4 linked regions of the Homo sapiens genome follow. The protein of the gene in region 3 interacts with the protein of the main gene of each other region in a pairwise test. Each region holds a gene or a part of one and is shown on either strand. Other genes may lie near its edges.

Evidence for each region.
Region 1: the proteins of CWF19L2 (region 3) and CCDC136 interact in binary tests that used the Homo sapiens proteins (3 or more experiments, as listed by UniProt).
Region 2: the proteins of CWF19L2 (region 3) and CARD10 interact in binary tests that used the Homo sapiens proteins (3 or more experiments, as listed by UniProt).
Region 4: the proteins of CWF19L2 (region 3) and CWF19L1 interact in binary tests that used the Homo sapiens proteins (3 or more experiments, as listed by UniProt).

Annotation. Positions count from the first base shown.
Region 1 is NC_000007.14:128,794,949-128,801,975, reverse strand, and holds part of CCDC136 (coiled-coil domain-containing protein 136), read right to left. Parts: intron 791-7,027; coding exon 467-790; intron 1-466. UniProt on the Homo sapiens protein: May play a role in acrosome formation in spermatogenesis and in fertilization.
Region 2 is NC_000022.11:37,509,411-37,516,437, forward strand, and holds part of CARD10 (caspase recruitment domain-containing protein 10), read right to left. Parts: intron 6,889-7,027; coding exon 6,563-6,888; intron 1,012-6,562; coding exon 802-1,011; intron 1-801. UniProt on the Homo sapiens protein: Scaffold protein that plays an important role in mediating the activation of NF-kappa-B via BCL10 or EGFR.
Region 3 is NC_000011.10:107,426,815-107,433,841, forward strand, and holds part of CWF19L2 (CWF19-like protein 2), read right to left. Parts: intron 6,936-7,027; coding exon 6,820-6,935; intron 2,638-6,819; coding exon 1,985-2,637; intron 1-1,984.
Region 4 is NC_000010.11:100,257,622-100,264,648, reverse strand, and holds part of CWF19L1 (CWF19-like protein 1), read left to right. Parts: intron 1-2,585; coding exon 2,586-2,670; intron 2,671-3,604; coding exon 3,605-3,683; intron 3,684-4,329; coding exon 4,330-4,431; intron 4,432-7,027.

The sequences.
Region 1 (7,027 bases), on a different chromosome or scaffold from region 3:
CTCTTTGCCCATCCTAGAGCTGGAAATTTTCCCAGGAAGGGTTTTCCCATAGTCAAATCAACAAAGACCCAATGACTCTCTGAAGAATTCCCAGGGTACCTCTCCATGGTGCTATTTCTTACACCACCATGGACTGGTTATGTAACATCTGGGTAGGTTTTTCCCCTTTACTGTCTTTTTAAAATTTTTATTTAAATTTTTCTTTTAGAAAGAGATAGGGTCTCACTTCATTGCCCAGGCTGCTCATGAATGCCTGGGCTCGAGTGATCCTCCCATCTTGGCCTCCCAAAGTTCTGGGATTACAGGCATGAGCCATCACGCCTGGACCCCTACAGTCTTGAATTCAACCTGGAGGTTTTTTCTAGAGATTCCCAATTCATGATCTAACACCACCTTCTACCATTTTCCTATATATTATCTCCTTTCCTCTGCTTGACTTTACTGACCCACTTGATGGCTCTCATACCTTGTAACCCAGAGTAATCTGAGAGACCTAAACTACCGGATGGTTCAGAGCTCTTCATTTCCATTTCTGCACGGAGGGAGGCGATCTCCATCTCATAATCTCCCCGAATGCGTTCCATGTCTTCAAGTTCATTCTGCATCCGGCAGAGATCCTCCTGCAGGGATGCTATGTCACTCTCATGTTCAGTTGCGGAATCCTCTGCTGCTTGCCGCAGACTCTGGATCTCAGCCTGGGCCAAATGCAATTCCTGTTCTATTTCCTTAAGTTCGCTTTCTTTCTCATGCTCTAACAGGGAAATCTCCTCCCGTAGAGAACGCAGCTCACCTGCAAAGTCCAAAGGTTGAGATGATCAAGAGGGCAGGTGAACTAACCTACCATGTTCTAGAGGCACAAAATTAAAGGGAGACTTATTTCTTGTCTGCAAAGTCCTGAAAACCTTGTCTCTACCCCATCAGAGAAGTGTAGCATCATGCCGGACGGAATAAAAGGAGTACCTAAGAAGGGAAAAGAGAGTGACTCTATGTAGTAAGGTCCAATAGAAAAGTAGATTTTGAGGCCTGGCACCAAAACAATCACTTAGTCTACTGTAAACAAAAAGTATTTCATGCTTCTAAGGAATCACCTGACAGTTAAAGACCTAACTTCATTTATAGTATTTTCTTGATGCCCTGAATCTTTCTAAAAATCCCCTGACTCAAAAAATGTATACAGACTATTTTCACCTATTCATCCTGAGAGCTCAGAAATTACAGAGCCTCAGAGTTCCCATGACCTACCTGTGGTAAGTACTGGACCTAAAACAATGTGCATTTAGAGTTCACAACTCAAATTCAAATATAAGTTCACTGCATAATAACCAAACACGGGATAATAATCTAAGTGTCAGTCGATAAGGGATTGTTTAAATTGATGATAGGCTGGGAGCAGTGGCTCACGCCTATAATCCCAGCACTTTGGGAGGCCAAGGCAGGTGGATCACTTGAGGTCAGGAGTTCAAGACCAGCCTGGCCAACATGGTGAAACCCAGTCTTCGCTAAAAAAAAAAAAAAAAGAAAGCCAGGTGTGGTGGCACGCCCCTGTAATCCCAGCTACTTGGGAGGCTGAGACAGGAGAATCATTTGAGCCCGGGAGGCAGAGGTTGCTGTGAGCCAAGATCGCACCACTGCACTCCAGCCTGGGCAACAGAGTGAGACTCGGTCTCGAAAAATAATAACAATAATAAATAAATAAACTGATGATAGTTAAATAGAATATCATGCAGCCATTTAAAAGAAAGTATCAGATCTATGGTGAAAACAAAGAAGTTTCCATATTAACTGAAGAAAAAGAGCTGTAAAATATATGCTATGATCTAATTTTTGCAAAAAATATTTTATGTATAGTATATAACACACAAATGGACAAACATATAGAAAAAGGCCTGGAAAGATCTATGCCCAAACCATAATGAGTAGTTGTTTCTGAGGTATGGGATAACATGTGGTAAGGTTTTTACTTTACATATCATATCTATCTGTGCTGTTTGGATTTTCAGAACAAGCCTATATTTTCTATTTTTTAATTTACAAAATAATGAGTTAAGAGTTCTCTGTATCTATGGAGCATCTCAGAGTTTCTAGACACATGTACCCATCTGGGATCAGAACGAAAAAGTGGAGAGAGTAAAAGGCACTGACACCAACAGTGAATTTAGGATTTGAGGGCCAGGATTAGAGAATTAATGAGGATTGGGTTGGGAGGGTCAGGATTTTCCCATAAATCCTTTGCAAGGCACATTCTCCCATCCCCTTCCCCCAACTTCTGCTCATTCTACTCACCACTCAGATGTCAACTTTTCTAGCCTGTACCTCCACTTCCTCAAAAAAAAATAAGAGAAGTCCTCTATTAAATGGTCTCATAAAACCTTGTACTTTGCTATATGTGTGTGTGTACTTAAGTCTCCCCTTCACTTGGTTATAAGCTTTATCGAGGCAGAGAGCATATCTGGTTTGCTCACCATTACAGCTCCAGGATCTAGTATTGTGCCTGAAAACGAAGCTCAATAGATATTTGATGTATTCATGCATAAGTAAGGCAGCAGTTCATCTATTCAACAAACTTTTGCTAAGTATCTCTTATGTGTACAGAACTAAACATTTGGGGTTTGGGGGGTTTTCCTTTCTGTTTTTGAGACAGTCTTGTTCTGTTGCCCAGGCTGGAGTGGAGTGGCATGATCATGGCTCACTGCAGCCTTGACTTCCTGGGCTCAAGCAATCCTCCCTCCTCAGCATCCCTAATATCTGAGACTACAGGCATGGGCTACCATGCCCTGCTTTTTTTTTTTTTTTTTTTTTTTTTAATGTAGAGATGGGGGTCTCTTTCTGTTGCCCAGGCTGGTCTCAAACTCCTGGGCTCAGGCGATCCATCTTGGCTTCCCAAAGTGCTGGGATTACAGGCATGAGCCACCACACCTGGCCCTGTTTGGATATTTTTTAAAAATTAGAATAGAATCTAGACTTTCAAAGAAGACAAATTTGGACACGCTTCATAGATAGATGCTGAGTGGTGAGGGCATCTCAGGGGAAGATCTACCCTGCTCCCCTGAGCTCACATGTGGAACTATGGGCATGTCTTTTGCCAATCTTTCCAGTTCTAGAATGATCCTAGCTGTTACGTCTCCTTGATCTATTCAACAACTATTAACTGATCCTTAACTGCGTGCCAAGGCCAAGAATCTCCTGTTAGATTCTCTGACTTCCTATTGGAAGAAAAGTCCGCTCTACCCCCACTACTGAGCAGCACAGTGAGGTCTGTCTAGCTAGGGAGACACAAGAGGAAGCTGGCCATTAGGACAAAGGCCCTAGAGTCTGGGGTGGGTGTTCTGGAGAAACAGACCAACCTCCACCTCCCTAATATGCTTTTGATGTTAGGGTTCAACTCTCTCTTAGGTGCTTCTGGCCCTAAAAAAATGGTATTGTCGGCCAAACACGGTGGCTCACACCTTTAATCCCAGCACTTTGGGAGGCTGAGGCTGGTGGATCACTTGAGATCAGGGGTTGGAGACCAGCCTGGCCAAAATGGCGAAACCCCATCTCTACTAAATATACAAAAATTAGCCGGGTGTGGTGGCTGGCATTTGTAGTCCCAGCTACTCGCGAAGCTGAGGCAGAAGAATTGCTTCAACCCAGGAGGAGGAGGTTGCAGTGGGCCAAGATCTCGCCACTGCACTCCAGCCTGGGTGACAGAGCAAGACTTCGTCTCAAAACAAACAAAAAACTCTACTGAGGAGAGAATCGCTCTGGAACCCTATTTTCGGCCGGGCGCGGTGGCTCACGCCTTTAATCCCAGCACTTTGGGAGGCAGAGGCGGGCGGATCATGAGGTCAGGAGATCGAGACCATCCTGGCTAACACAGTGAAACCCCGCCTCTACTAAAAATACAAAAAATTAGCCGGGTGTGGTGGCGGGCGCCTGTAGTCTCAGCTACTCGGGAGGCTGAGGCAGGAGAATGGCGTGAACCCGGGAGGCGGAGCTTGCAGTGAGCCGAGATCACGCCACTGCACTCCAGCCTGGGCGACACAGCGAGACTCCGTCTCAAAAAAAAAAAAAATAGAACCCTATTTTCCCAGGTAGTTCCTGCCTGCATCTCTGCTTCAATTCTGACTTTTCGCCCGTTTGAATGGAGGAACGTTCCTTCTCCAGGCAAAGGCCTTTTTTTGTACTGGATCTTTTCTTTCATTATACATGATCTAGCATTTCCTACCTTTGAAAAAAGAAAAGAAATAATCTTTTGACCCTATTTCCCTTACTTCTCTGCTTCTCTTCAAAATGACTACTGGAGTTATCGGTACTCACCTTCATCTCCCATTTCCTCTCCAAACCCAATCCAATCGGTGCCTCCATGCACTGAGATGTCTCAGGGTCCTCTCTCTTGCCAAATCCAAGACCATCTCACTTGACTTAGCAACCTGACACAGTGGATCACTGTCTCCTTGAAGCACTTTCTGCTCTGGCTTACAGGGCATGACATGCTCCAGGAGTTCCTCTCACTTTACTCTTTTGTTCATTTCTCCTTCTATACTGGACCTCTAAATACTGGAGTGTCTCTGGGACTGGACCCTTTCTCCTCTTCTGGTGTCTCTCCATGTGACTGCACCATTATTTCCCATGGATTCTAATGCCAATTATATGCTAATGACTCCAAATTTACATCTCCGGCCCTGTTTTCTCCCTGGTTCTGCCTTTATATATCCAACTGCCTCAATATATTCACTTGGATGTCCACAGTTACTTCAAACTCAACAGAGGAAAACATGTTTTAAATGGCTCCCCTAGCCCCAAAACTTACCCCTTGCCAAGTCTTTCCCAATTCAATAAACATCACCACCTTCCATCAATTTTCTCAAGGCAAAGTCATCTTTCATGTCTCTGTTATCCCCTGATCGAATTCATTAGCAAATCCCGAGGGCTTCACCTTCAAAATATATTCTGGGCCGGGCGCGGTGGCTCACGCCTGTAATCCCAGCACTTTGGGAGGCCGAGGCGGGCGGATCACGAGGTCAGGAGATCGAGACCATCCCGGCTAAAACGGTGAAACCCCGTCTCTACTAAAAATACAAAAAATTAGCCGGGCGTAGTGGCGGGCGCCTGTAGTCCCAGCTACTTGGGAGGCTGAGGCAGGAGAATGGCGTGAACCCGGGAGGCGGAGCTTGCAGTGAGCCGAGATCCCGCCACTGCACTCCAGCCTGGGCGACAGAGCGAGACTCCGTCTCAAAAAAAAAAAAAAAAAGAATATATATATATATATATTCTGAATCATCTCCATTTCTACAGCCCTAACTCAAGCGACCATCATCTCTTGACTGGACTATTGCAGTAACTTGCTGACAGGACTCACTGTTCTGAGTCACTTCCCTCCATCTTAAGTGTTTCCACTTAGTGGCCAAGTTCTCTTTTAAAAATGTAAAGCAGATCGTATCATCCCATTCCTGGCTAAGACCCTCTCCTGGCTTTCTACCACACTTAACATGAAAGCCAAACCTCTTGGCTGGCCTACAAGATCCACTGTAATCTGGCCTCTGCCTGCCTCAGAACGTTCTCTTGCCAGGGTCCTCCACGTGCACTTTGCTGCAAACACAGTGGCCTCTGTTCTGTCGCTCAAACAAATGAAGCTCATTCTCACCTCTGGGCCTTTGCAGTTGCTGTTGCTTCTGCCTGGTATGCTCCTCCCTCAGATCTTGGATGGCTGGATCCTTTTCATTATTCAGGTCTTAGCTCAAATGTCATCTTCTCAAAGATGACTTTCCTAACTGCCATATCTAAAATAAACTCCCTTCAAGACCAGCCTGGCCAACATGGTGAAACTCCATCTCTACTAAAAATACAATAATTAGCCAGGTGTGGTGGCGCATGCCTGTAATCTCAGCTACTCGGGAGGCTGAGGCACTAGAATCGCTTGAACCTGGGAGGCAGAGGTTGAAGTGAGCTGAGATTGTGCCATTGCACTCCAGCCTGGGCAACAGAGTAAGACTCTGTCTCAAAATAAAATAAAATAAACTCCCATCCCACCTCCTCTCTGTATCATATTATTATATCGTGTTCATAGCATTTATTGCCATCTGAACTTGTGTTGTTTATTTTCTGCCTCTCTCCGTTAGAATGTACTCTTCATTAGGGCAGAGATGTGGTCTGTCTCATTCACAGCTGGTCCTCCAAGTATAAAGGCACCTCATAAATAGGTGATAAATAAATTAGTCCCATTTTACAGATAAGAAATGACATCTCAGAAAGATAAGTGACTTGCCCAAGATCACACAATTTCTAAGTGGTATAGCTGGGCCCAGGAATCTAGGTCATCCCAGATCAATGCCCACACTCTTCCCTATGTGACACGTGTCCTGCCACTTTCCTCCTCTGCAAGCCCCTTCACTGACCACCCTTCCTGTATCTACCTTTGCTTACATTTTCTGTCCCCGTCTCCTCTCCTCCCCACTTACACCTCTGCTTGCTCCTGTCCAGGCCTGCTTCCTGGCCTTCCTTTTTTTTCTCCATTTATACTTTTCTTTTGGCTTGATCTCAGTTCTCCCCAGAGTCCCTGCCGTTTTCTAGGGCAGCTCCCCTAAACCTTCCGGAGGCCCACAGAAGTAACAAAAGCTGCCTCTTTATTTGGTGGTGTGGTGGAATGTGGGGCATCTGCCTTGCTGCTTCCCAGAGACAAAGGGACGTGGGTGTTGGCAAAAAGGGATTTGGGGCCCACAAGCTCAGGTCCCAGGCAGCAACAGAAGTGCTGTCATCTGTCTCTCTTAATAGGTGCAGAGAGGCCCCACCAGTCACTTCTCATTGGCTTCATGCTTTCCCATGCCATCCTTGGAGGAACCAGAAAAAGGAATCCGGCTTGGAATTCAACTTGGATCACCCACCCCTGGCACTGACCAGGAGAACAAAGGGACAGGGATGCAGTATGAAGGAGGAGGCTGAAGGGGCAAGAGGAAAGAGCCCACCAGGGACAGGAGGTGACAGGGAGGCCAAGAAATGGAAGGGGAGGACAGAAGAGCCAGGTAGATGTGCAAAGAAAGAAAACTGG
Region 2 (7,027 bases), on a different chromosome or scaffold from region 3:
GACAACCAGGGACAGCCACGTGCTAAGGGCCCTCAGCTCAGAGCTTCAGGCAAGAGGCTACCGGGACTCCATCCAGATCTCAGATCCCTGGTTCTGAAATCCTCAGCTTCCCAGGCCTTGGGAGGATAAGCAAACAGCAAGAGGGCCTGTTTTCCGGGTCTGACCCCCACCCCCACTCCATGTCCACGAGCCCTGGCCCTAGTACCTGCTGCAGGCCCTCCTGACCTCCCCGCAGCCTGTGCCCATGAACGCTGGCCCTGGTACCTGCTGCAGGCCCTCCTGACCCCCCCTCAACCCCCATGGCCACGAGGCCCAGCCCTGGTACCTGCTGCAGGTCCTTCTGACCTCCCCCGACCCCCATGCCCATGGGCCCCAGCCCTGGTACCTGCTGCAGGCCCTCCTGACCTCCTGCCAGCCTGTGCCCACAAGCCCCAGCCCTGGTACCTACCGCAGGCCCTCCTGACCACCCCCCACCCCCGTGCCCATGGGCCCCAGCCCTGGTACCTGCTGCAGGCCCTCCTGACCTCCTGCCAGCCTGTGCCCACAAGCCCCAGCCCTGGTACCTACCGCAGGCCCTCCTGACCACCCCCCACCCCCGTGCCCATGGGCCCCAGCCCTGGTACCTGCTGCAGGCCCTCCTGAGCCCCGCTACCCAGCCTGTGCCCAGAAGCCCTGGCCCTGCTACCTGCTGCAGGCCTTCCTGATCCCCCACCCCGCAGCCTGTGCCCACAAGCCCCAGTACCTGCTGCAGGCCCTCCTGACCACCCCCCAGCCTGTGCCCACAAGCCCTGGCCCTGGTACCTGCTGCAGGCCCTCCTGCAACTCCCGCAGTGACGCCGTCAGCCGCTGGTTCTCAGCACGCAGCTCAGAGACAAGGTCCACATTGTCTGGCTCCTTCTCCTTCTCCTTCTCCTTCTCCTTCTCCTCTGCCCCAGGGGGCGGGCCCCTGGCCCTTCGAAGCAGTGCACACTCTTCCTCCAGCCGACTCACTTTGAGCTTGAGCTGATCCACCTGGAGCCCAAGACATGGGTCAGCCCAGAGGGAGACACACTGGGAGCCACGGGTTACAGGGGTGGGAAGACCTGCTCCCTCACTCCTGGGTGCCTCCCAGATTCCCAGAGAAGCCGAAGCAGGAGTCCTCCCCAGGCTTGTCTATGAAAACAGGACAGGCTGGACAGATATAAAACAAACAGGGCTGAGGAAGGAGCAGTGGGTAGCAAGGCCAAGGACACCCTCCCAGGGGAATCCACTCTAAGAACTTGTGGGCGGACATGCTGCATCACGACACGCTGTCTGTCCCGCACTTCTGACACTGACTCCCGTCAATTTAGCCCAGTATTCTCATGGCAGAAAAGGAGGAGGGCCGCATCAAGAAGAAGTGGGGCCAGGCACAGTGGCTCACGCCTGTAATCCCAGCACTTTGGGAGGCTGAGGCGGGCCCTCAGTGGATCACCTGAGGTCAGGAGTTTGAGACCAGCCTGACCAACATGGTGAAACCCCGTCTCTACTAAAAATACAAAAATGAGCTGGGCGTGGTGGCACATGCCTGTAGTCCCAGCTACTAGGGAGATTGAGGCACGAGAATCATTTGAACCCAGGAGATGGAGGTTACAGTGAGCCAAGATTGCGCCGCTACACTCCAGCCTGGGCAGCAGAGCAAGACTCTGTCTCAAAAAAAAAAAAAAAAAAAAGAATAAGGGAAACCAGGCCTAACACTTTAGAAGGCCGAGGCGGGCAGATGGAGACTAGCCTAGTTAACACAGTGAGACCTCGTCTCGACAAAAAAAATTTAAAACATTAGTTGGGTGTGGTGGTGCGCGCCTATTATCCCAGCTACTCAGGAGGCTGAAGCGGGAGAATCACTTGAGCTTTGGGAGGTTGAGGCTGCAGTGAACCATAATCGTGCCACTGCACTCCAGCCTGGGCAACAGAGCGAGACCCTGTCTCAAAAAAAAAAAAAAAAAAAAGAAGAAGAAGGAGAAGGGGGTGAGGAGGAGGAGGGGAGGAGGAGGGAGGGGGAAGAGGTAGAAGGAGAAGGAGGAGGAGGAGAAGGAGAAGGAGGAGGCGGGAGGAGGGCAGAGTGGGAGGAGGAAAGAAGGAAGAAGGAAGAAAGAAGAAAGAAAGAAGGAGAAAAAAAAAAAAAACAGGGTCAGACCCCAGCTCCGTCTCTAGCTCAGTGTGACCCTGGGCAAGTCATGGCCCCTCTCTGTGCCTCAATCATCTCATCTGTACGGGGGGGGTGTGAGGGGAGAGGAGAGGGCAATGGTTTTGAGAGTTGAGGGACTCATCCAGTCCGGGAACCAGATGCTCCCCGCAACAAGCCAACATCTCACCTCAACACACTCTCAGAGACTCAGACTTGGTCTGGTCCACCCTGAAAGGAATTCCTAACAAAGCCTCCACTCCAGAAGATTTGGCTGTTGGTTCATCTCCCTCAAGAGCTCCAGTTCCAGGGTTCAGGTTTCAATTTTGCTACTTCTAGGCTCTGTCATCCTGAGCAAGTCACTTACCTCCTCTGGGCCTCAGTTTCCTCATCAGTAAAATGGGCCCAGTCAATCCCCTGGCCCCATCATTTGCCTCCCAAAGGTGTTGCAAGAATCAAACAAGACAGCAAGTGGGCAGAGGCCTCTAAACTATGAAGGGCTACAGAGCTGCCACAGTGTGACCGTGGCTGTCTTCACAGCTTCAAACAAAATCCCATGCCCCTAACCAATCACCAGTTCGGAGTGTGCAGCCAGAAGTTGGCCTGGTATGGGGGGTGGGCAGCTGTGGTGTGACCACCAAGCTGGGAGCAGACGTGCATGGCCAGTTTGCTGGACTATGAGTGCACTCAGCCAAGCGTGACGCATGTGGGGTCTGAGGTGGCCAGACAGTGACAAGAGTGGCAGCAGGTGGCAGGCCATAAAATGAAGTCATTGTTGGGAAAAGGTCACAATGACTTCTGGTGCTACAGTCAGGCATGCAATATTTGGTGCCCTAGGAGTCCCCTGGCCTCTCTTGGAAAGTGACTTGCTAGTTCCCCAGCCTTGAGAGGTTAGAATGGCAGCCCCCCCTCCACACACACACACACACACACACACACACACACACACACACACACACACACACACGGGTCTGGAGGCTGGGTCAGGCAATTCTACAAATTAACAGTCCACTCCTCCTCCTCCGCAAGAGACTCAGAAAGAAATTCATGACTCCCGCATTCCTTTCCACTCACAAAACATGCTTTGTGAACAGCCAGAGAAAGACAGCTCGTTACAAGGACAACTGTGGTCACACCCTCTCAGCAAACCGCAGCCACACACCAGGGCCTCCTGCCTGACCCCTGGCCAGCCGGCTTCCCTGATGAGCTCAGAGGACAGGACACCTGGGAGTCTCCGACGAGCAACAGGAAATACGGATGCATTTAATCCCGGCGTACAAACTCACTGAGCACAAAATTATAGCGTTCGTTCCTTCAGTTTATGTTGCTTAGAAATAACAGCTCATTAAATTTGCACCTTATAAAACAGGGTATTAAATCCCAGCCGCCACACACCTGCCTATGGGAGGTGGGGATGCAAGCCGCCAAGCCAGGCACGATCAGGTGCTCTGTTCAGATCCATCTGCAACACCTTTGTTAATTTTGGAGCAGAAAAGCTCCAAACATAAATTATAAATTAAGGTAAATTTATAGTAGCTAAGTTTAATTTCACTTCTTTTTTTGTTGTTGTTTTTTGAGACAGAGTCTCGCTGTGTCGCCCAAGCTGGAGTGCAGTGGCTCAATCTTGACTCACTGCAACCTCCACCTCCCGGGTTCAAGCAATTCTCCTGCCTCAGCCTCCCGAGTCCCTGAGACCACAGGTGCATGCCACCACGCCCGGCTAATTTTTTGTATTTTTAGTACAGACGGGGTTTCACCACGTTAGCCGGGATGGTCTCAATCTTCTGACCTCATGATCCACCCGCCTCAGCCTCCCAAAGTGCTGGGATTACAGGCATGAGCCACTGCGCCTGGCCAATTTCACTTCTTAGGTCCCTAAAATAGGAAAAAGCAGCCACTCTGCGTAGAGGCAGATGACCTGCAGACTACAGAGGCACCTCCGACCATCTCTTTTCCATCCCCCTCCCCTGTCCCAGCAGCCCCCAGATGGCCACACACGCAGGACATCTCCCAATCGCATCACACCCAACCCAAAGGTGGGACAAGCCGTGAGGGCTGCAGCCCCTCCCAGTACCCCCAGCCTGCAGCCCTCACGCCGTCCTCTCTAAGCAGTAAATTATTTCTTCTGAGAAAACCCTACAGCAAGCCCCATGTCTGTTTCAGAAAAAAGGGGAAGCCCTCTGGGTAAAGAAAGGGGAGCACTCCTACCTGCCAGCCACCGCCCCTCAGCAGTGCTGAGAGCCAACTCAGAAATCCTTCAATCCGGCTGAACACAGTGGCTCATGCCTGTAATCCAGCACTTTGGGAGGCTGAGGCGGGCAGATCGCCTGAGGTCAGGAGTTTGACACCAGCCTGGCTAACATGGTGAAACCCCATCTCTACTAAAAATACAAAAAAAAAATTAGCCAGGCATGGTGGCACACACCTGTAATCCCAGCTACTCAGGAGGCTGAGGCAGGAGAATCGCTTGAACGTGGGAGGCAGAGGTTGCAGTGAGCAAAGATCTCACCACTGCACTCAAGCCTGGGTAACAAAGCAAGACTCCATCTCAAAAAAAAAAAAAAAAAAATTCCTTCAATCCCAGGACATTGGGAAAGTGCTCTAACCAACTTCTCTGTGCCTCAGTTTCCTCCTCTAGAAATGGGGAAGATAGTGTTGTCCACCCCAGCGTAGGGTGGCTGGAAAATTAAAGGGGTCTGTGCATGGCAAGCACTGAGGATGGTATCTATAAAGCACAAGGCCGTTTTATAATTGTTACATCATCCTTATCTGTGATGAGGATGAGGAAACTGAGGCACAGAAAGGAAAGCCTTCCCCATGCCACATGGTTTTTCACAGTAGAGCAGGCCTGGGACATGTCCCTGTCCCTGCCCATCACTCCTCAGAAAGCCTCCGTCTCCTGCCACACACCAACCAGGCCCTCGAACGATAGCCTCAAGGTCATCTCACAACCTCAAACCAGCCACCTACATCCTCAAGCAGGACCAGCAGCCTGGACCCTTCAACTGGTGGCCTCAACACCCCCATCAGGGCTCACCTCCCCAAGATATCGACCCACCTGGCGTGCACAAACCGAGGACTGGCACACCAGTGCACCCACATCTACAGCCTCACAGCCACCTGCAATGCTGTAGCCACGGCCCAAGGCTCCTGGGGTAGGGAGGCTTCAAACTCCACGGTCAGAACCCACTGTGCAGCCTCGAGCAACATGGCTGGAGAGAGCCTCCTGCGTGCCGTGCGGCCTGCACTGCTAAGCCCTTGACGTGGATCAGCTCATTAAATCCTTGGAACAACGCCCTGTGGCAGTCAAATACTGGTATTATCCCCCTGCTGAGTCCCAGTCAGAAACCAAGAAAGTGAGATGCAGTAGGAGGCACAGCCTCACTTGCTGCTGGAGGGAGTCAGGTGAGACTTCCCCACACAGGGAGTAGGCGGAACAGCAGCGTGGGAAGGGGGCTGGCACTGGAGCCAGCCGGACCCGGTTCAAATCCAGGCTGTGCCGCTTCCTGGCTCTGTGACCTTGAGCAAGTCCTTTCACTAATCTGAGTCTCAGAGTCTGTATTTGCAAATGAGGGCTTGGCGTATGGTGCTTTGGTGAGGATTAGAAGACATGATGTTTAACCTATGTGTCTCTTGATAATAATATCAACAATGGCTACTGATGACACAAGTTGTGAGCAGTGTGCTAGGGACTGTACATGTTTGAAACTGTGTCTTAAACTCACCGGGCCAGGTACGGTGGCTCACGCCTGTAATCCCAGCACTTTGGGAGGCCGAGGCGGGCAGATCACCTGAGGTCAGGAGTTCGAGACCAGCCGGGTCAACATGGTGAAACCCCATCTCTACTAAAAATACAAAAATTAGCTGGGTGTGGTGGCACGAGCCTGTAATCCCAGCTACCCGGGAAGCTGAGGCAGGAGAATCGCTGGAACCCGGGAGGCAGAGGCTGCAAGGAGCCGAGATCACACCACTGCACTCCAGCCTGGGCAACAAGGGTGAGACTCCATCTCAAAAAAAAAAAAAAAAAAAACAACTTATCAAATCCTCATAACCCAGTGTTTCTTGGCCCCGGCCCTACCGATGTTTTAGGCTAGGTAATTCTTTGCTGGGGACTGTCCTGTGCCCTGCAGGGCGTTTGACAGCATCCCTGGCCTCTACACACCAGATGCCAATAAATCCCCACTAATTGTGACAACCAGAAATATTTCCTAGACATGGCCAGATGTTTCTAGGGGGTCAGAATCACCCCCCATTGAGAACCACAGTCATAACCCAATGAAGTAGGTACACCGAGCACTAAAAGGACTTATCCACGTCAAAGAGCCAGCAATGGTGGCTCTGGGACACAGGCTGGCTGGCTACTACATTGCAAAAGCTGCCCCTTCCCTTGCCTCCCCGACCCATCTCCCCAGGGCCTACCGCCAGCTGCAGGTCACGGCTGCGAAGTACAGCCGAGTTCTTCTCCTCACTGAGCTGTGCCAGGCGCATGGCGATCATGTAGTTCTCATCCTTGAGCCGCAGCAGCTCCAGGCTGCCCGCCTCCCAGTCCTCCCGCAGCCGTTGACAGCGCTCCTGAGCCTGCTGCTGGTCCCGCAGCCGCTGCTCCAGCCCTGCCCGCTCCTCCTCGAGCACCCGGCCCCGGGCCTGCAGTTGCTGCTCCCGCTGCAGCTGGCTCTTGCGAGCTTCCCGCAGCCGTCGCACCTCTGTCATCAAGAATTGGGTCAGGCCCTCAGGCCCCTCCTCATCTGCCAGGACAGAACAGGGGACAGAATAGGCAGCTCAGGCAAGTAAAATCCAGGAGATAACATACTGTGTCAAAAAACTCAAACCATAAAAACACTAGAGGGAAATTCTGGAATATATTTGTAGAATTGGGAGCAGGGG
Region 3 (7,027 bases):
TTACACATTTTCAAATACACTAAAAAATTTGGAAAGACACTACCAACACTGTTAACCTGGCAAATAGGATTAGGGTTGGAAGTGACATGAAAGGGAGATTTACTTTTTCATTTTATACTCACCTATGCTTCATATTCTTGTTTTATACTCTTCTGTCTATATTGTTTAAATTTTATACATATACATTTATTAAGATTACAAATGGCATGTTCTAAAAAATAATACTGGTGTAAATAACAAGAAAGGTAAAGATATATGAACAATACATACAAAGAAGTAAAAACTAATTCAACTAATTTTTCCAATCATGACCATTCACTTATAAGACAAAGATTATTTGTAACAACTAGGCATTCTTCAAGGTCCTGTCTTGGTCTCCTACTTTACAACCACTCTACATTCTCAGGAATCTTTTTTTTTGGATGATTCCTAGATTTTTCTTTCCCTCTCCAGCCAGTCACAGAATTCATAGAAAGCCTCAAACCCTCTGTACCATCAAATTAACACAGCGAACAAAGAATACTGTCTTCAAAGGAAAAATTACATGTATACATACATATATATACACACATATATAGCTTTTAGTGAGTGCTGTCTTCAAACCGAAAAATTATATACATACACAGCTTTTAGTGAGTGCCTGTATTATAGTGTATCTATCAGAAGCTTACAACTTAAATAAGACATACAAATATGCAGCAATCAGACAACCGGTTGGAATACTAATCGTGTGGTATTACTTTGCAGACATTTTGCTTAGCTACAGTCACAGAAGAAGGCCTACAGATCATCCAAATGCTAACCCAATCCTAATGATATCAGGAAATAAGAGCCTCATTCCCCTAGTGACTGGGAACTGGAAATAGTCTACCACCCAGGGCACCTGGAGTGAAGACTGGACAATTACATATGCATACAGCCTTAGACAATAATCCCTGCCATGTTTGTTTAGTCAATACAATTGGATTTCTCCTTCCACTTCCTGGGAGGAAAGCCCTGATGTGAACCAGAGTCCATTTGACTGGGGCTTAATCACTCAGTTCAGATTTTGCCAGCTCCCTCCCACCGAAAATTACACACTGAGTTTTATAATCCACTGCTTCAGATGGAGTCATTAACAAAAGTGATTTATCAGACTCACAACCCCAAACCACAGTGCTTTTATCTACTACAACCATGTGTTTCTATTATTTCCTAAAACCTCTTCCTTTAGTGTCCCACTCATTTGGTGCTATTTTTAAACATATTTTAATGATCATTCACGTGTAAGTTGTTACCCTTTGGACACTTTTTTTTCTGGCTATCTCCAACAGGGCCAGCAAATTTCTAAAGCAAATTTTCTTAGGTTTAGTCCCATTCAACCTGGGTTTCCTCATCTTCTAACCCAGCCCTACATAAATGCAACATATATTTTATATTTAAAACTCTAATATTATCTTTAAAATCTGTCAATTGCCCAAAGTGGATTATTTCTTTCTTTGTGCAAAATAACAACCATAATTCATGCTCCCCTCTGCAAGATCTCTGGCATGTATTTGTCACTTTATATTTGGGCCGTGGCAGCGTGTTTTCCTTTTGTCTCCTAGACTTCCTATAGACATGCAGTATTTATGATTATGATTATACTCAACAATAAGATAATTTCCTTAGAAAGTAATGGCATTGGTAACAAAATCTACCAAAATATCTCCTGCAGCACATACATTTAAAACATTAACTCATTCAGTTTTTTAAATTGCAAAGCAGCAACATATTTTGAACAAATATAGCTACTGCTTTCAGCTCTTAAAAAAAAAAAAACCTATGAAATAAAATGCAATCCATACCACAATACTGCCTGTTAAATCTGCATATCTTACCCCTTCTATCAATTTTAAGAAATGTGAGATCATAGTCACAGCTAATAACTGATGTTCTAAAAATACAGTTCTGTTCTTTGAACTCTCTGGATCTTAACTTATTAGGTTAAAAAATGATAAAATACCCAGCAAATGTAGACTTTGTATCCCGTAGATGTTCTTTTTTTGGAGGGTCATCTCTCAAGACTTCATCTTGTGATTTTTCTCTTGGGTCTTCTGGAACATGTTGGTGTTCATCAGTACTGGTTTCCGATGGCTTTTGATTTGAATGTTTCTTGTCTCCTCTCCCATCAGAGCGACTCCATGATGTTAATCTTTCTTCACTGTTCTTGGTGGGTTTTCTAAAACCACTACACAAAGAGCCCTGAGCTACCAATGCTGAAGATGAACTAAGTGGTTCAAATTTTCTGCCCTTGCTGTGAAATGACAGTTCTTCATCATCAGAGGGTCTCAAGAATTTAGCTCTCAAATTGCCAAAAGAAAACTCTTGATTTTGCCTTGGGTTAGATTCTCTTCTACACGTTTCTAAAGACCCAGGTCTCTTATCTTTTTCATCACCAATAAATTTTTCATTATTGCTATTTTTTGCAGTATCTGTTGTAGCATATCTATCCCTTGAACTGTTACCATATTTTACTAAGTCTGATTCTCTACTTTCTTGACAATTTTGTGCTTTATCTGAATATGTGGGTTTCCTCCACCGTTCCCGTCTATAATCTTCTTTCGTGGATGCAGCTTTTTCAGCATCTTCTAATTTTGACTGAAATATTTCCATTGACTACAAAGGAGAAAAATTAAACAAGATATCTAAAATTAGGAACGGCTCAGTGACTTGCACCCCACATGTCACTGTATGACTCACTGCCAAGTGGCACACTGAAAAGCCCACTAACGGGGTGAAAGAAGACCCATACAATCATCCTATACGGAAACGAATACTTTCTAAAAATGTGTAAACAATTAAAAATTATTAAATAACAAAAAGATTCCAAAAGGATAGCCAGTTACACCAAACACTCTGCACTAACACAAAGTATAACACAGAAAACAGTAGAGACAAACTTTGCAAAAAATACTTAATTCCTACTGGTTGTGAGATTCAAGAGGTTAAATTGCTAAAACAGATTCTCACCAAAAAAAAAAAAAAAAACAGAATAGTTCAAGAACAAGAAAGACTTGGAAATAAAAAATTGTGTGTCCCAAAAAGCTGCCAAGATACACCAAAAGGAAGAAAAGACAGTGCTGAAAACTAAATTAACCTGGGAATTCTCTATATTTTAGGAAAAGGTAGTAAATAAATGTAAGTTATAAGAAAAAAAGATACATGAACAATTGATTCTAGAAAATCTAATATGCATTTATTAGTACTTCCAGAAAGATGGAGCAAAGATGATGGGAATAGAGCATTAATTTTAAAAATATATAAGAAAATTTCCCCAGCCGATTTCTCAGAAGGACTCATCCAATAGCCTTGGGTGGGGGAGAAAGAAGAAAAACACAGAAAAAAACCCTAATACCTGAATCTCAAAACTCAAGGAAAAAAAAAAAAACCTTTACAAGGACTAGATCAGGGAAGGAGTGAATAAGTGTGAGCCTGTATATGGATAGGGGTAGATAAATAACAAATTATCCACAAAGGAAAGACAGACTTACAGCTGTTCATCCATAATAATAAGTAAATAATAGAATGAAGATTAAATTTTGAAAACAAAATTAAGCTATAATTCTATATAGAGAATTCAATTCACAGTCAAATTATCCTTCCTTGGTATGGGCCAAAGAAAATCATTTTCAAAAATGCAGGGAATCAGAGGGCATATCACTAGCAATTCTGAGGGAAAAAAATTACTCAAGATGATTAAGACACACCATCAATGAATTCGGGCAAAGATCTCTGAAAAAAAGAACAGATGCTAAAAACCAAATGTCAAATGCAATGGTCAAGTCTAAATAACTGTTCTTGTAGTTGCAAACTTTAAAACAATTTTCAAGGAAAAGATGCATCATACATAGAAACAGAAAGTAGGAAGGTGGTTACTGGAAGGAGAGGGGATGAGAAGATGGAGGTCAAAGAGTCAGAAGTTTCCATTATGTAAGATAACTAAGCCTGGAGATACGATGTACAGTATGAGGACTACAGTTAATAATATCACATTATATACTGAAAATTTGCTAAGAGAGTAGATTTTAGGTATTTTTACCACAAAAAAAAAAGGAGAATAACTACGTAAGATAAATGATACACTAGTTTGCTTAACTCTAGTAATTATTTCCCCATGCATATCAAAACGTCATGGAATACATACCTTAAACATATACAACATAAAAAATAAAAAAATAAAATTAAAAAAAAACAAAAAAGTACCTTTTACTCAACTTTGAATATAAGGATACTTAAACATGATACTCTTAATCTTAAATGCAAAAGTCATTATTTTGTCTTTAGACAAAAAGGCAATACCAGCTTCCAATCCTGTTATCAAAGTTCTAAAATTATAACTATTTCAAGAAGAAAAGAAAGTTTAAGTATTAACAGAGAGGAAAAAAACAAAATAATTATTTGCATATAACTACCTTTCCACATAACCCAAAATTTTTAAAATTAGGATAATAAAAGTTTAAAGAATTGGCCGACCAGCACCAACACCAAGTCAGAAAACATTTTTAAAATTCAATTTATAATATAAAAAAATAAAAATAACCTCAATGGCATATGCATAATAACTGCACAGAGAAAAATACTGAAGAGCATAAATAAATAGTGTTTTGGGATGGGATGACTCTATATTATAAAGATACTAGTTGTCCTTAATTTATCTATACATTTAGTTAAATTTAAATAAAAACTCCAAAAAGAGTCGTAAATTTATAACAAATTTTGGAAAAATATTTATTTCTATTGAGCTTAAACTAAATTTACTAAGAAAACTAAACACATAAGAAAGCAAAGCTAATTTTTTTGGTGACTAACAAGAGATTTATCACATAGTGACTACCACATAGTAGGTGTTTATTATTTGCTATCTGCATAATTTACTGAAAACCACAATAATTAGAAAAGTATGATACAAATTCCAGGAAAAGATAGAAAAATCAATGAAACAGATCCGAGAGTAAAGGAACAGACCCATGTATATGAGAAAATTTAATGTATAACAAATGTGTCATTTCAAATTAGTGAGAAAAAATAATTCATTCAATATATAGCAAACAACTATATAAGACTTATGCAAAGTTTGATGCCTATTTCATACCATGCACAAATATATATTCCAGAAAAATTAAAGATAAAACATAAAAAATAAAACTGAACAAGCACTCAAGTAAGTACAGCTGCATATTTTTACGATTGTGGGGTGGGGAAGGCCTGTCAATAAATTATACCAAGAGCACTAATTCATGAAAAAATAATATGAGGGATTTTGATAGGTAAAAATATTTAAAACTTATCCATAGCAAATTATCAACGAAGTAAAAAACATCAAGCCGAGGGGGAGAAATCTGAACAGATTTATTAAAAAGTCTTAAATTATTATCCCAAAAGAAAAATGGAAAACAATATCAATAGTCAATTCACTAAAAAATACAAATGGTCAAAATAAATGTAAAAAAATTCCAATTCGGCTGGGCGCAGTGGCTCACGCCTGTAATCCCAGCACTGTGGGAGGCCAAGGTGGGCAGATCACGAGGTCAGGAGTTCAAGACCAGCCTGACCAATATGGTGAAACCCTGTCTCTACTAAAAACTAAAAATACAAAAATTAGCCAGGCGTGGTGGTGTGCTCCTGCAGTCCCAGCTACTTGGGAGGCTGAGGCAAGAGAATCACTTGAACCGAGGAGGCAGAGGTTGCAGTGAGCTGAGATCGTGCCACCGCACTCCAGCCTGGGTGACAGAGCAAGACTCCACCTCAAAATAAAAATAAAATTCCAATTCACCAGTAAACAAATGTATAAAAACAAAAGCAAAACTTAAAAACTCTGCCAATCACAACAGCATGAACTATAAGAACTAATCTTACTGTTGAAAATTATGTGATAAAAGAGATATTTTTAAGTATGATTTGCTCATTCTTTCTGTAGAGAAATCTGGCAATATGTACCTTGCTTTAAATGTCTATATCCTTTAAACAGGCAATTTCACTTTTAGTAATTCACCAACAAGAAAAATATGCAAAATGCATTGGGCATAGACAGTCAGCACAGTGCTATCTAACAAGGGAAAGGAAAAGCATATAAATGGTCATCTACTGACCAATAAATAAAGGAAAAGCCTATAAATATATTAAAAAAATTAACAGGTCATTAAAATGTATATATTTACTGGCATCCAACTATGTGTACATTATTAAGTTTAAAAAGCCAGGGCATATTCTACGAGTCTACTTTAAAACTCTGGGGGAAAATATCTGGAAAAATATATTCCAGAAATCTTACTACTTTCTAAACCTGCTTTCCCCCGGCAATTGAAGAGAAAAAAAAGAATATCAGTAATTACTGCAATAGAAAGATTGTCCAGAACGATGGGGAAACTGGTTCTAAAATATATACTGTTGCACAGTTTCATTGTTTTAAGAGTATATATACACTCTTTTAAAAAAATCCGTAAAGTACCCAAACTCTAGAATATACCTAACTCTGGAATATAAAAAATTTCAACAGTGGTTACCTCCAGAAGTGTACCATGCAGACTTTCCGGCATTGTTTAAATTTTCTCACAATAAGAAAATTTTTTTTACATTAAACACACCCACATTTAAGTTTTATATACTTAAGCTTTACATTCATTATGTCAATAAAAATATGATACATGTTTAATAATAATGAAAAGCAGAAAATTACTTCAGTAGTATAAAGACATGAAATATTAATTCAATTCTTCATGGCACAAAACAAAGCTAAAGGCACTTAATTTTTCACCTAATTCTGAAAATAAGAGGCATCTCCTTAAAACAGATACTCACCCCATATCTTTCGGCTACAATGTCCTCAAAGTTTCTACTTTGTTTCTCAGCTTGTTCCTTCATTCTTAGATAAGATTTCCTTAGCCAGCTTAATCCACCATCTTCTACCACTGAAACTAAATTCCAGTATTAAATATTAGTTATACTTTTAATGTGGTTATCATACAATTAATATGTATTGCTTCTATGACTTCTAAAATATAAAAAT
Region 4 (7,027 bases), on a different chromosome or scaffold from region 3:
CTGAGGCTTTTTTACAGTCAACTTTTTTTTTTTTTTTTTGAATACGTAGGAGTGTACTCTAAACAGTAAAGAGCATACCATACTGAATATATTTTTTTTTTTTTGAGATGGAGTCTTGCTCTGTTGCCCAGGCTGGAGTGCAGTGCCGCGATCTCAGCTCACTGCAAGCTCTGCCTCGTGGGTTCATGCTATTCTCCCGCCTCAGCCTCCTGAGTAGCTGGGACTACAGGCGCCCGCCACCACGCCCGGCTAATTTTTTGTATTTTTAGTAGAGATGAGGTTTCACTGTGTTAACCAGGATGGTCTCGAGCTCCTGACCTTGTGATCCGCTCGCCTTGGCCTCCCAAAGTGCTGGGATTACAGGCGTAAGCCACCGCACCTGGCCATAGCATGCTAAATATTATACATAAACCAGTAACATAGTTGTTTATTATCATTATCAAATATTGTATACTGTACATAACTGTATGTGCTACACTTTTTATAACCACCAGCCCAGTAGGTTTATACCAGCATTACCACAAACAAATGAGTAATATATTGCACTATGATGTTACAAATGGCTAGACATCACTAGGCGATAGGAATTTTTTAGTTCCATTATAATCTTATGGGACCACCATTACATATGTGGTCCCTTGTTGACCGAAACATTGTTATGTGGCACGTAACTGTATTCTTGTCTTTAACCTAAAAAGGTTATTGAAATGCTTAAGAACGCTTTGGCATGATCAAATTTTCATTTTGGAAAGCAGTTCTGTCTGCAATGTGGAGAACAAATCAGAGCCAAAGTAGAGAACAGCTGGGATTAGGTAGAGTGATGACAGAGGAATAGTTTAGGGATTCAGGGTTTATTAAGGAAGTAAAATCAACAAGGCTTGTGATGGTTTAATTGTGAGTGAAAAGGAGCTGGCCTTGTTGGGTCATAGATTTCTATCTTTATTCAGTGGGATAGAGAACAGTGGAAAAGGGCCCAGATGAGGAGATGAGGCACCTGGTGATGTATAAACTGGACAGTGGATCTCCCAGAGACAATGGTAATTCCGTGTGACAACTGCTGTGATGGAAGAAATGCAGGCTCCTATGGGAACACTAGAAATTGGTAACTGATAGGTACTAGAAGGCTTCCTAGAGGAGGTGGTGCTCAAAATATAAATAAAAGTCATATTAGTTTATGACAAAGCTTTCTCTGAAATGCTGTAATGTGGTTTTCTGAGTTTTTGAGAAGGTAATGACTTCTGAGCCAGCCAGGAAGGCTTCAGAAATGTGCTAAACCTTGAAGGATGGGAAAAACTTGGATTTAGGATGGGTAGGGTGGAACTACCCTAGGGAATGACAGAGGCAGAGAGTAATCAAATTGCCAGTTCAGTTAAGAAAACTTGGAGAAAGTACTAGAAAGGTGACAGGTCAGGGCCTGTGGAAAGCTGTGGTTCTATAGGCAGTGGGGAACCTCTTAATGTTTTGAGGAAAGAACATTAAACTGACTACTTTCTGTAGGATGGACAGGAGGAAGAGAAGGCATTAGAGGAAACATAAATGTATTCTCTACTTTGAATCTAACACTAGATGCATTGTATTTTTGTCTGATTCTTCCTCTGCCATAGGAAGGGGGTGAGGTGGGGTGGAGTGGAGTGGAGGTTGCAGTGAGCCAAGGTCGTGCCACTGCACTTTAGCCTGGGTGACAGAGTGAGACCCTGTCTCAGAAAAAGAAAAAAAAAAAGTTTGGCGAGGTGTACAATAAAAGCACGCCAGAAAGAGACACTCACAAAACAATAAAATTTTAATATTTCAAGATGAGTTAAAAGACATTAAGGAAATGATATAAGCCGTGGAAAAACCACATAAATCAGAATTAGAAAATCTCAGAAATGAGATGATAGTAAAAGTCACTTCACAACGTAGGGCCAGTTTACCTTACCAATGTCAGCTCTTGCCATTTTCTACTTCCTGCCCCATAACACTTCACACATACCTCTGTTGTAGCCCTTTTCTTATAAATTTATAATGATTAGAGTGTCTTCCTTTCCCTGATTATAAACTCTTTGAGGCTTAAACTGAGTCTTCCTCCACCTTGTACTGCTAACATGTTTTTAGCATAGTATACTTGGCATATTGTACTTAGCGTATGGTAGGTGTCCAGTACCTGTTTATCAAATGAATGACTGAAGCCCTGTACTAAGATAGGAGGAGTCGTACTAAGATAGGAGGAGTCAAAATAAGAAGGATAGAATGAATGTGAAAGATGTTTGGAAAAAGGGATTGATGGGACTTGGTGACTGGATGGGGGATTTTTGACTTTTGTTGACCATGTCAGCCATAGACATGTCCACAAAACTTAGGAATGAGGAGAAGAAGCTGGCTCAATTGTGGAGTAAATGATAAGCTAAATTTTAGATACGGCGAGTGGGAGGTGTTGGTGAGACCCTCAGTGGATCTGCCCAGTGGTTTACGTGCACTGAACCTTGCAAGGTAACTGCAGAGAGACTAGATCATGTATCTATCTAATCCAAAAGACCAGTATATACCAAACCCGGCAGGCCCATTTGTTTCCTGAATTGCTATAATGTTTATCTCTTTGTTTGCAGCTTGGCTTGTGGAGATGTTGAAGGAAAGTTTGATATTTTATTCAATAGAGTTCAAGCAATTCAGAAGAAAAGTGGAAACTTTGATGTAAGATGTTTGTTTTTACTGAATTTAATTTTACCTTTGTAGTCACACATAAAAATAAAGTTTGCACTCCTTTAAGTCTTGATTGAACACATACCATTTTTGTTAAATTGAGTTCCCTTCATGAGCATAGGAACTTAGTAGCTGCTGAGTGGCTGGGGGAGGGAGACCTATTTACTGTTTACTATTGATCTTTATATTTTTTGAATTTGAATATTGTTACTTTATCACTGTACAAAAAACTGAAAACAGACTAGCAACACTTCCCTAAGTGATTCTGACCTCTGGGTTTGGGAAGCACAGATCTATTTCATGAATGTGATGAGGATTAAGTCAGGTAACATACATACCAACCCATCACAAGCTTAAAAGCTCTATATGAATGTTGTGTATGGTTGCCAACTAGACTGTAAACTCCTAAGAGTACAGAAGAGAGTATTCCAGGTATGAGGATAATTTGTTCATTGGGTTAAAGGTTGGGTAAAGACAACAGGCAGGAAATGTGTTTTTTATACCTTGTATTTCTCAGATTCTAATATTTTAAGTTTTTTTGTTTCACACGGGGATTCTTTAAAGATCTATTTCTATGTGACTGTATATTCCAGGGAAGGATATGTGGAGAGAGCCATGAATGGCAGAGTGGGACTGGGAATTTGAGGAGCACTTGAATTCTAACTTACTTTAAAAGTTTAGTTCCTTGACTCTCTCTTACCCATCTCTAACTTGAATTTGACAGCCAAAGAGCCAAAACTTAATAATTCATAGAATCAGTAACTGTTAACAGTTGCTGCTAAAGAATTGTATATTGAAATCTGCAAATTGATTAAGAATTAAAAACTGATTTGAAACTATTAAATAACTAGTTGAATATTACTATCAATTATGTACTGTTTGATATTTTAAAATCTCATATATCTGTTTAAAAAACTCATTTTAGCTGCTGTTGTGTGTAGGAAATTTCTTTGGCTCCACCCAAGATGCTGAATGGGAGGAGTATAAGACTGGCATCAAGAAAGGTATAGAAATTATTTTTATTTAACATATGATTTCTAATAAAATTTCAAGGGCCAGAGTTCTTGCAGAGTTGTTTTTCATTATTTAAGAATTTAAGAGTTATTTTCAGTATTTAAGAATTTAAGTTGCTTTTCATTATTAAGACTATCCGGCGCAGTGGCTCACACCTGTAATCCCCGCACTTTGGGAGGCCGAGGCATGTGGATCACCTGAGGTCAGGGGTTCAAGACCAGCCTGGCCAACATGGTGAAACCGTGTGTCTACTAAAAATATAAAAATTAGCAGGGCATGGTGGCGCATGCCTGTAATCCCAGCTCCTCGGGAGACTGAGGCAGGAGAATTGCTTGAACCTGGGAGGCGGAGATTGCAGTGAGCCGAGATTGCACCACTGCACTTCACCCTGGGCGACAGAGCAAGGCTCTGTCTCAAAAAAAAAAAAATAAAATAAATAAAATAGCCAAGCTACAAGGTTGGGTGTAGTATATCCTTAGTGGATAGCTGTTCCACATTTAGGATTGCTAAATATGGGGAATGTGAATGCATGGACTATTTACTTTTAATATAAGTATTTTTTCTATAGAGAGGCATATCTTAAGTTCTAAAGCAGATCTGGTAACTATATGGTGTCATGTCTGTTTCCCTCACTAGCTCCTATTCAGACATATGTGCTTGGTGCTAATAACCAGGAAACAGTAAAATATTTCCAGGATGCTGATGGATGTGAATTAGCTGAAAACATTACTTATCTGGGTAAGCTGATACTTGTTGTATTTTTTTTTTGTTTTTTGTTTTTTGTTTTTGAGACGGAGTCTTGCTCTGTCACCCAGGCTGGAGTGCAGTGGCGCAATCTTGGCTCACTGTAACCTCCACCTCCCGGGTTCAAGTGATTCTCCTGCCTCAGCCTCCTGAGTAGCTTGGATTACAGGCGTGTGTGACCATACCCGGCTAATTTTTTTTATATTTTTAGTAGAGACAGGGTTTCACCGTGTTAGTCAGGATCATCTCGATCTCCTTACCTCGTGATCCGCCCACCTCGGCCTCCCAGAGTGCTGGGATTACAGGCGTGAGCCACCGCGCCTGGCCGATATTTGTTGTATTTGTAATGAACATAATATAGTGTTCTCAGGAATTAGTCTCCCAGGAAATTTTTGGCTAGATTTTTCAGTGATTGCAGCCTGAGATAATGGGGTTTGGAGGGTTTTTTCCCAGAGTCTGTATATGTGCTGCTGTGCCCTTAGGACAATGCCTTTAGGACAGTGGCATTTTTTCTTTATTATTTCTACCACTTAGCCCCAATATCGTTGCGTTCCCACAACCCGGTACACACTTGTTTAGCCAACTGGAGGGATAAACTCCTTGTCTATAGTATATGGGATACTTAAGGTATAAATTATGTTCACACAAAGGAAATTTCATGTATGTGGCTTTACCATACAATCTTGCTAGGTATATACAGCTTACTTGTTAATGAGCCTCCCAACTATTTATAGCTCTAGGTTTCACTCTAAGGTTTTGGCAACTCAGGTTTTTAGTGCTGTTCTTTGGGGGCTTTTTACTCTTTTTTTACTCTCCTTTTTCTGGTTCTAGGTACACTCTTCAGTTCCAGCTTAAAGTTGTTTCCTCCACAGCCCTCTGTATTGCTTTTAGTGGCTCTTTCAATGTCTGGCTGTTTTCAAAAGCACTGTCAAATTTTGCTTTTGTTTTCCCCCCACCTGCTGGCAGTCTGCTGCCTCTTAGATCATTCAACTCTTTTTTTTTTTTTTTTTTAAGACAGTGTCTTGCTCTGTTGCTCAGGCTGGAGTGCAGTGGCATGATCTCGGCTTACTGCAACATCCGACTCCCTGGTTCAAGTGATTCTCCTGCCTCAGCCTTCCGAGTAGCTGGGATTACAGGCACGCACTACCATACCCAGCTAATTTTTGTATTTTTAGTAGAGACGGGATTTCACCATGTTGGCCAGGATGGTCTCGATCTCCTGACCTGGTGACCCGCCTGCCTCAGCCTCCCAAAGTGCTGGGATTACAGGTGTGAGCCACTGTGCTCGGCTTTTTTTTTTTTTTTTAGTTGAATTTACTATTCTTCACATTTCCTCCTTGTTGGTCTTATTTCTCTAGAAAACTTCTTCATTTCCTTTGCTGTAAATGTCCTCTCTCTCCTTCCCCATCATAGTTCATCTTGGCCTTTAGTCTTTATTTGGCTATGGCCCTCCCGTTACCAGTCTTATTTTGCACTAATCCTGTGGGACTTCTTTAAGCAAAAATTGAAGGAAGGACTTTATTTGTTTTGTTGTTTTAATATGGAACTCTTCATGAATTTGCATGTCATCCTTGTGCAGGTGCCGTGCTAATATTCTCTTTATCTTTCCAGTTTTAGTATATGTGCTGCTGAAGTGAGCACTGTTTAGTTTTAACTACACATATCAGATACGCATTTTGAAATTCTGTTGTAGATTTTAACATGAGCCTGACTTATGCAGTTCTTGGTATAGTTTGTAGATTTGGATTAAGGGCATTACTGTAGATATTTGGCAGCCATTTTACTATATGAATTTAGTGCCAGGAAAGGAAAGAGCAGCTAAGGTACTTGGGTTATTTCTGTGAAATAGATTTTTTGGATCCAGTAGGAGGATCAAGCAGTGAACTTGGTAGTGAACATGTGATAGTGAGCTTGAAATACTGGTAGGACATCCAACATATAGTTGGAAGTGAGAGTTATTATTATTATTTTTTGAGATGGACTTTCGCTCTTGTTGCCCAGACTGAATTGCAATGGCATAGTCTTGGCTCACTGCAACCTCTGCCTCCCGGATTCAAGCGATTCTTCTGCCTCAGCCTCCTGAGTAGCTGGGGTTACGGGTGTGTGCCACCATGCCCGGCTAATTTTGTATTTTTTAGTAGAGACAGGGTTTCACCATGTTGGTCAGGCTGGTCTCGAAATCCTGACCTGAGGTGATCCAGCTGCCTCAGCCTCCCAAAGTTCTGGGATTACAGGCATTAGCCACTGTGCTGGTCCGAGAGTTCTTTCTAGAGTATCAGTGTTGAAGAGTATAGGCTTTGGAGAGTTGGTCCCATAATGATGAAAAATAGAGCTGAGAAGAGGATCAAATTATTAAGGAAGAAATACAATCAGAAGGGAAGCAGGTTGATGATAGTACCTTGGTGGGTGGGGATGGTATATCTTCATCTAGGGGGTAGGAACAAAGACATAAAAGTGCTTAGAGGACTGTTTGAGAGGTAAAGATATTGTCAACTTCATGGAATCTACTGAAGATAACATAGTTTCAGGAGAACATTGGCAAATATAGGGTGACCTTTAAGAGAGTGATGGGAGAGGGAAACTGATTGCA